Linked DNA regions of Homo sapiens. The protein of the gene in region 1 interacts with the protein of each later gene in a pairwise test. Each region holds a gene or a part of one and is shown in the gene's direction. Other genes may lie near its edges. The genes, in order: MAN1C1 and SMAD9.

Evidence for each region.
Region 2: the proteins of MAN1C1 (region 1) and SMAD9 interact in a two-hybrid assay, tested with the Homo sapiens proteins (one large-scale study listed by BioGRID and IntAct).

What each region holds. Positions count from the first base shown.
Region 1 is NC_000001.11:25,780,754-25,785,225, forward strand, and holds the end of MAN1C1 (mannosyl-oligosaccharide 1,2-alpha-mannosidase IC), read left to right. Parts: intron 1-186; coding exon 187-359; intron 360-1,831; coding exon 1,832-1,947; intron 1,948-2,909; coding exon 2,910-3,036; 3' UTR 3,037-3,090; coding exon of another isoform or gene 3,091-3,097; 3' UTR 3,098-3,697; downstream 3,698-4,472. UniProt on the Homo sapiens protein: Involved in the maturation of Asn-linked oligosaccharides. Trim alpha-1,2-linked mannose residues from Man(9)GlcNAc(2) to produce first Man(8)GlcNAc(2) then Man(6)GlcNAc and a small amount of Man(5)GlcNAc.
Region 2 is NC_000013.11:36,910,045-36,913,856, reverse strand, and holds part of SMAD9 (mothers against decapentaplegic homolog 9), read left to right. Parts: intron 1-3,812. UniProt on the Homo sapiens protein: Transcriptional modulator activated by BMP (bone morphogenetic proteins) type 1 receptor kinase. SMAD9 is a receptor-regulated SMAD (R-SMAD).

The sequences.
Region 1 (4,472 bases):
CCAAGAGGGAAGCTGTGCATCTGCCCGGTGCAGCCTTACACAGCAGTCCAGGCAGGGGCACCCCACACCCACACACACCTGACATCACCCTGGCCGCGGGTTCAAGGCAACTGACATCTCTCCTGGATCCCGAAAAGCAGGAGGTGGGAGGTCTGACCTGGGCCCTCTGCTTGGCTGTTTCCCCAGACACCAAACTTGGGCCTGAGGCCTTCTGGTTTAACTCCGGCAGAGAGGCCGTGGCCACCCAGCTGAGCGAGAGCTACTACATCCTCCGGCCAGAGGTGGTGGAGAGCTACATGTACCTGTGGCGACAGACCCACAACCCCATCTACAGGGAGTGGGGCTGGGAGGTGGTGCTGGTGAGTGGGCCCCAGGGATGGGCAGCAAGGTGCTAGATGCCCCTGAGAATTTACAGGCTGGGTGCTAGGTGCCCTGGCTTGGGCCTGGAGTGGAAGGCCAAGCCACGTTGACCTCTGACCACAGTTCAGAGTGCAAAGGGTCAAGGTGGTGGTTACAGAGCCAAGAGTCCCCAGCTGGGCAAAGTTGTCCTGAGACAGGACAGGCCAGACTTGTGAAGAGGGTTCTGAGTGCCCATATCCTTGGGGCCTGGGACCAGGCCTCAGCAAACTTAGAGGGTCAGAGGCTAGGCAGCTGCCTAGAGCACCACGCAGGCACCACGCGGCCACCGCTGTCCCAACAGACGCTTTCCTGATCTCGAAGCTGGGCAGCTCACCTCCACCTCCCTCCTCTTCCCACAGGCAGCCCAGCCTGAGGGACCCCCCCACCCTAGTCTCTACTGGCCCTTGAGGCCTACCCTGCCCTCAGCCTCCGGCCCCACACCTAGGTGGAAATTTAATGGCTGTCTTGGGGGAGGTGTCAAAGGCAGGTGTGGGGATTCCAGCAGGTTCCCTGGTGGATGCTGAGCCTTCTCTGCCCCTATCTCCCCCACCACCCCCGTGCCCATTCCGAGCATTGCACTCAGACGGGGTCCAGGGCATGCTCAGGTTTACTGGCCCTGTTAAGTCCACCTGCTTCCCCAGGACCATTGTTCTTGGCCTTCAAAGGCCAAGCGTCTTGTGCTCCTATGCCCAGTCCATAGACCCCCTCCGTGGGTAGAAATTGTATTTATCAGCCTATAGGCAACACGGCAAAACCCCATCTATACAGAAAAATACAAAAATTATCCAGGCATGGTGACGCACGCCTATAGTCCCAGCTGCTTGAGGGGCTGAGGCAAGAGGATTGCTCGAACTGCAGAGGTTGAAGCTGCAGAGTGAGCTCTGATCGCCCCACTGCCCTCCAGCCTGGGCGACAAAATGAGACCTTGTCTCAAGAAAAAAAAATGCATTTATATAGAAAGATGAATGGCTTGGCTCACTTGCCTCCAGCCCAGGGGCCATCTCTCCTGAGAATCCCTGGAGTACCAAGTCCGTCCCCAAATCCCAGCCCATGGCCATCACCCGTGGCTTCTCTTCACCTCTGCCTACCACTGTGGGTGAATCTGTAAGACCAGCCTAGTCCCCTGAAACACAAAGAGAAGCTTCCTCTAAGTTCAAACCAGGTGAAGAGCTCAGGACAGGCAGCCCATCGGGCCAGAGCTCTCAGAGGTGTGGGTGGAAGGAGTGTGGCCCCTCCAGCCTGGGGACAGGTGGCTAAACCCCGAAAGAATAATTTGACCTTCTGTTCCCACAAATGCCAGGAGTCCCCAGCCAAGGGGTGGGGGTGCTGTCTGCTTTCTTCTAGCTCCAGCCTGCCAGGCATGCACAAGTCTTGAGGGGCCTTTCCTGTCCCGTGTTAAGGCTGTTTTCCTCCTCCTCTTCCCCTTCCTCAGGCCTTGGAGAAATACTGTCGGACAGAAGCCGGTTTCTCTGGGATCCAAGACGTGTACAGTAGCACCCCCAACCACGACAACAAGCAGCAGAGCTTCTTTCTAGCGGAGACACTAAAGTGAGCAGTGTGGGCTCTTCCTAGGGATGGACAGGTGGGAGGTTGAGGGTAGGGGTCCGCAGTCCCTCCCCTCCACAGTCAGGTTCTGTGGTCACAGGACGGGAGCCCAAAAGGGGTGAAGGGCTTGGGATCCAGAGGGCTGCACCCCAGGTGTGAGCCTTGGGCCAGGCCGCTTTCTCGGAGAGTGAGACTGGGCTAGAATCCAAGTTCCCTAGGGACGCACCGTGTGATACCGCAGGTTCCTTCAGTTTCTCGCTTATCTCCCCAGGTTGCTTCCGTTCTGGGAACCGCGTCCTCGTGTGTAAAATGGGATAGGGTTAACGATGATGATGTCAGTGCTGGTTGCTGGCATTGACTTTCCCTCCTGTGGCCTCTGCAGTGTGGCTGCTGTGCCCTCCTCGATTTCATGCCATGGAAGTTGGCCATCCCACTTCCTCACTGTTCCCCAAAGCAAGCCCCTTGTGCTTTAACCCTTTAGGGTGGGTCAGAATGATCAGTTCCTTCCAGTGAGGAAAAAACCCACAACCTGGAAGCTGGAGTTCTAGAGTCACAACCCCATGTTCTTCTCAGTGCCCCAATGTGTACTCTGAATATAGAGTCTTAGTGGGCAGCAGCGGGGCACGTGAGAGTCAACTGGACTGCAGCAGCCCTCAGGCACCCCTGCAGAGAATCTGGACCATAAGGGCTCACATACAGGGCCGGGCAGGTGAAGCTGGCTGATGGCAGAGCCAGGGTAAACTAAGTCCTTCTGACCCCAAAGCTCAAGGCTTTTCTCTGCAGCCACAGCCTCCTTCCCCAGGACTAGCACCCCCACCCTGCTGCCCACAGTTTTGGGGTTGCAAGGCTCCAGACCTTGACCATAGGCCTATCACAAAGGCCCTGAGACTTGTTCCCAGGCCCACCCTTCTTCCCCAGGCCACTGACAGACTGTGTCTTGCTTCCCTGCCCTGCGTGGGGCACAGGTATCTCTATCTTCTGTTCTCTGAAGATGACTTGCTCTCCCTGGAAGACTGGGTGTTCAACACCGAGGCCCACCCACTCCCGGTGAACCACTCAGACAGCTCCGGCAGAGCCTGGGGCAGACACTGACCCCATCTCCTGCCGCCGCCCTGGGGCCGCCGCAGGGATGCCTTGCCTTTTCAGGATTTGAGACTGTTCTCAAAGGGATTGGGAACGAAGGCCCCATCTCGGGCAGACCCCCAGCAGATGTGTCGGACAAGCAACTTCTTTTCCTCTGTGAGGAGACAAGACTTGGAGACTCAGCGATGTCAGGCCAGGGCCATGGCCACACTGGCCCACACATTCCTTTCTACAGAGAATTTCTATGAAGCCCACTCACTTGCCATTCCAGGGCCAAAGGACCGGAGGTTTGCATATCCGCCCCTTGTATTTGATTTGCTTCCTTTTGGTTTCTTGGTTTTTGTTTTTGCTTGATTTTGTCTTTTCTCTACAGTTTAGTTTTGTCACAATTACACATATAGTTTTCAAAATCATGCACTTTCTAAAATGGTGTCATCCTGAAAAACAAAACCCAGTGTTTGCACACACACAAAATCTTGACCCCGTTATCTATATTTTAAATGCTTTTTGCCCAACACTGACCCTATGTTCAACTTTGTGTCATTTACCTTATAATTTGAGGAGGGGTTTCCCTTTGGGCCTCAGTGTTACAAATTACTAGTGCTATTTTCATTATTATTGTAATGGAAAAATCTGTGGACTAGAATAAAAGAGTTTATTGAATAAGAAATATGATTGGGCTCATTGCACATCAGTGACTCCTAGAAAAACCATTGCAATGTTACCATCAGAAATAATAATCAGCCAGCAGTTGATTTAAGGTATAATTTAGTAAACGATTCCAACTTCTATTACCTCCCCTGAAATCGGTCCTGATATATTCGAGAAGCATGAGGCCAGCCCTTCAGATGCAGTTGTTTATTTATACTCAGGTTTAGATTGGGAAGAGGCCCAGGGAGGAGCAGCAACTTGCCTGAGGTCACACAGCCCAAAAAAGGCAAAGGAGAGTCTCGCCCCTGCCGTCTCCTGGCCACCCCAGTTGAGTGTCCGTCTGTTCCATCATTCAGCAGATGCTTGGTGAGTGCCTGCAACGGACCAGACACTGGGCTAGAGGCCAGGGACACCGCTGAGAGTGAGACAGTCATAAGCCCTGCAGTCAAGGGGTCAAGAGGGGAGAAAGCGATGGTAAGGGAAACTGACAAGTAAGTGAAGTGACTGCAGGTCATAGGAAATGCTACAAAGGAGATAGATAGACAGCTGAGGACCTACCCTACGGGGTCAGGGAGGGCCTCTCTGGGCAGGTGACCTTCAAGCCAAGACCCAGAAGATAAAAAGGAGCAGCCGAAAGACTATCTGGCAGAAGAATGAACTTCCCATAACCCAGCCCCCTTTCCCACCCTCCCTGATGCCCTCCCTGGGAGGGGGCCTGAAACACTGGGGCTGTTGTGCAGAGCAAGGAGCTCAGGTCCTAACACTGAAGTGACAGCTCTTCCTCCCCTGACCCT
Region 2 (3,812 bases), on another chromosome or scaffold:
AATGTGTTAAGCTAAAAAGATTTTAGGTCTCATGTGGTTTTCTTTGTCTTGTTTATGCATTTAGTCATTCTTTGTTTTCTAGTGGAAGTAGAATTTTATTTTTAGGAATAGGAGTTGAATAAAATATTTGTCAAAGACAAACATTTATGGACATGAATGCTTCCCTTTCAGCTTATTGACTATATGTTTACACAAAGCAGTCATTAGGTGTTGGCTGTGTTTGCAAATAATGACAAGTTGGTATTATTTCAAAGGAGTGGCAGTTTTACTTGCTTTCTGTTGTCATTGCATCTAATTTTATTACAAGATATTCTAAATACACTTTATTTTTTTAAAGTTGTATTGATTATATCTTGGGGTTTTAAAGTGTTGCAATTTTGTGGGTGTAGCAATCACTTTAGAAGGTGGAACTTGTAAATTTATGGGGCTTGTATAGGATATTCATTCAACCATTATTTACTCTGTGTCTATTGTGTCTACCCTGCCTATGAGGCCCCAGAACAGGCCCTGGGGACTACACAACGAAATGAAGTGACAAAAATAAAATCCTAGTCTCCAGGATTTCATAGTGTAGTTAGCGTGAAAGAGATCAAGAAAGCAAATATTAAAATATTTCTCCAATAGTAAGATGTCTTACTTCCCCAAACTGTAATCTATTTGGGTTTATTTCTCTATTCAGCTGGCCCTGTGAGTCAGCAGTTTCTGCATCAACAGATTCAACCAACCACAAATGAAAAATATTGGAGAAAAAATTAAAAATAACACAAATAAAAAATAAGATATAAAAACCATTTACATAGCATTTACAGTATAGTAGGTATTATAAGTAAGCTAAGATGATTTAAAGTATAAGGGAGGATGTGGTAGGTTATATGCAAATATACCATTTTATACGAGGGACTTGAGCATCCTTGGATTTTGGTGTCTGTGGGGATTCTGGACTGAATCCCCCATAGATACCTGGGGATGACTGTATTTTTCCTGATTAGACTTCCGTATTTTCTGTGTGTGAATTTTTAGTTAGTCTTGTCAAGGATAATGAGAATGATCTCATTTGGGATTTGGGAGGTAAACTAGAAGGTAGAGGTAAAATAGAAGACATAAACAGGAAGAGATTCTTTCAGTAAGTCCTTATGAGAACTTAGAGATGCTGAGAACATCCCTAGGCCATGGAATTTCACTACTTCCTGAGTCTGTCAGGAGGAGGATCCAGCCTTTGTACAGTTTCCTCCTGTTTTTCCCTGCTACCCTTTACTGGTTCAAGGGTGAGTGAGTTTGCATGGCTGGTCCTATAGGAAACCCCACCCAACCCTTTTAGCCAGCCAGGGGCCTCCAGACCACTTTGAATACACTCTTCTAGTAACTGTTGTAATAGTGCACCTATTACTTGCCTGATAATAATATGTTTAGATTGCTGTCTCAATAGTAGTATAGAGGAAAGGGACCATGTCTTATCTTGAAATATTCAGCTGCTAGGGTAGTGTCCACTTCATTGTTGATACTTGAACCACTCCACCTTTCACTTCCCTAAATATGTTGGGTTTTCAACGATCCCACCTTTCTCTTCCCTAAATAGGTTGGTTTTTGTAGGGTAAGGTGGAAGGAAGGGCAAGGAATTTGGATTTAATCTGTAGGCAAAGGAGAACTATTCAATTTTAACCCGTAGTCATGATAACTATTAAATGGTTTGAACAGAAGAATCACATAATCAAAGGGGTATTTGGAAGAGTGAAGACAAATTCAAGTGGTTTGCATGCTTTTAAATGGCCACAACTCCTAGCTAAGCAGTTGACACACCATCTCCACTGCTTCATGCTTCTCTTTAGCAAATAAAAATCTGAGCTTCCCCGACTGGGTGCGGTGGCTCACACCTGCAATCCCAGCACTTCGGGAGGCTGAGGTGGGCGGATAACCTGAGGTTGGGAGTTCAAGACCAGCCTGACCAACATGGAGAAACCCCATCTCTACTAAAAATACAAAATTAGCTGGGTGTGGTGGCACATGCCTGTAATCCCAGCTACTGGGGAGGCTGAGGCAGGAGAATCGCTTGAACCCAGGAGGCAGAGGTTGCAGTGAGCTGAGATTGTGCCATTGTACTCCGTCCTGGGAAACAAGAGCAAAACTCTGTCTCAAAAAATAAAAAATAAAAAATAAATTGAGCTTCCCCGAACAGCAGTTCATAACACGGCTTATTTGTGATTCTTTATCAGTTTATGAACTCCACCCGCCCCCCCCCCCCCCAGGCAGCCTTTGGCCGGGAAACAGCCTTCCTCGAGACACACATCTATAAAATTTTAAAAATTGCCCACACATCATTAAAAATATATATATTAAACAGATGATTTATAGTCATTTAATACTTTACAAGTATTCAGACAGATTATGCTCTATATAATATTACCTTAAGTAGATAGACTATGCATAGGAAGTAGGGAATGCATTATATAATTCTGTCTTTCAAAGAAATTTATTGTATTGCGTTAGTAAAGCAATGGGCTTTAGGTTAGAACTTCAATTAATTACATGGGGCTTAATGATACAATAGTTGGCCAGGTGCAATGGTTCATGCCTGTAATCCCAGCACTTTGGGAGACCAAGGGGGGCAGATTGCTTGAGCCCAGGAGTTTGAGACCAGCCTGGACAACATGGTGAAAACCCTTCTATGAGAAAAATATTTTAAAAATTTAGCTGGTCTTGGTGGGGCGTGCCTGTAGCCCCAGATACTCAGGAGGCTGCAGGGGGAGGATCTATTGAGCCTGGCAGGTTGAGGCTGCGGTGAGCCATGATCACGCCACTGCACTCCATCCTGGGTGACAGAGCAAGACCCTTTTTCAAAATAGTAATAATAATATTAATAATACAATAGTTAATGGTATTGATAAAACTGGATTTTACTTTCATTCATTCAACATTTATTGATGGCCTCCTGCATGCTAGGTAGGTAGTACAGACCACAATGTGGCTTGGCTTGTGGCCTGATAGAAGGCTAGGCATCTCTGGAGAAAACACTTACCAAATCTGGGGATTCAAGTGTGGTAAGTGCTGTTGTGAGTGACTAGCACATGTTAGGTGCTGTGGAAGCCCAGAGGAGCAGCAGAGAGCTGATCAGTGCTGTTGCCTGGGGGCCTCCAGGGAAGGTTTCCAGGAAGTTGGCTTCCAGCTCTGTTTTGAAGAAGGAGCAGGAAAGATAGAGCTGCACAGGGGCCTTCTGGGCAGGGAGGGAAGGAGTGATGGGCAAAGGGAGTGAAAAGAGATGAGGCTGGGAATGTAGTCTGGGGAGGCCAGATTGCGAACAGCCTTATTTGAAATTGATGTTACAGGCGTCAACTCACAACCCCCACCTCATGATATTTAGTGGGCTTTTAAGTGTAAAATGTATGGATACAGACTCAGAGTAGAAATTTGGGAGATTCACTCTTGGTGGTGTACATTCTGTGGGTTTGGACAAGTGTATCATGACGTGTATCCACCATGGTAGTATCAGGCAGAGTCGTCTCATTGCCCTGCAAATTCTCTGTGGTCTGTGTTTTCATCCCTCCCTCTTCTCATATTCACTATGGTTCCATCTCTACATTTGAACATAGTGTATTTGAGGATCCTGGAGTCAATGGTGGTTAAATTTTAGTTTAAAGAGCTTGTTTTTAATTTTTTTTTTTTTTTGAGACGGAGTCTCGCTGTGTCCCCCACGCCGGAGTACAGTGGCGCGATCTCGGCTCACTGCAAGCTCTGCCTCCCCGGTTCATGCCATTCTCCTGCCTCAGCCTCCTGAGTAGCTGGGACTACAGGCGCCCGCCACCACGCCCGGATAATTT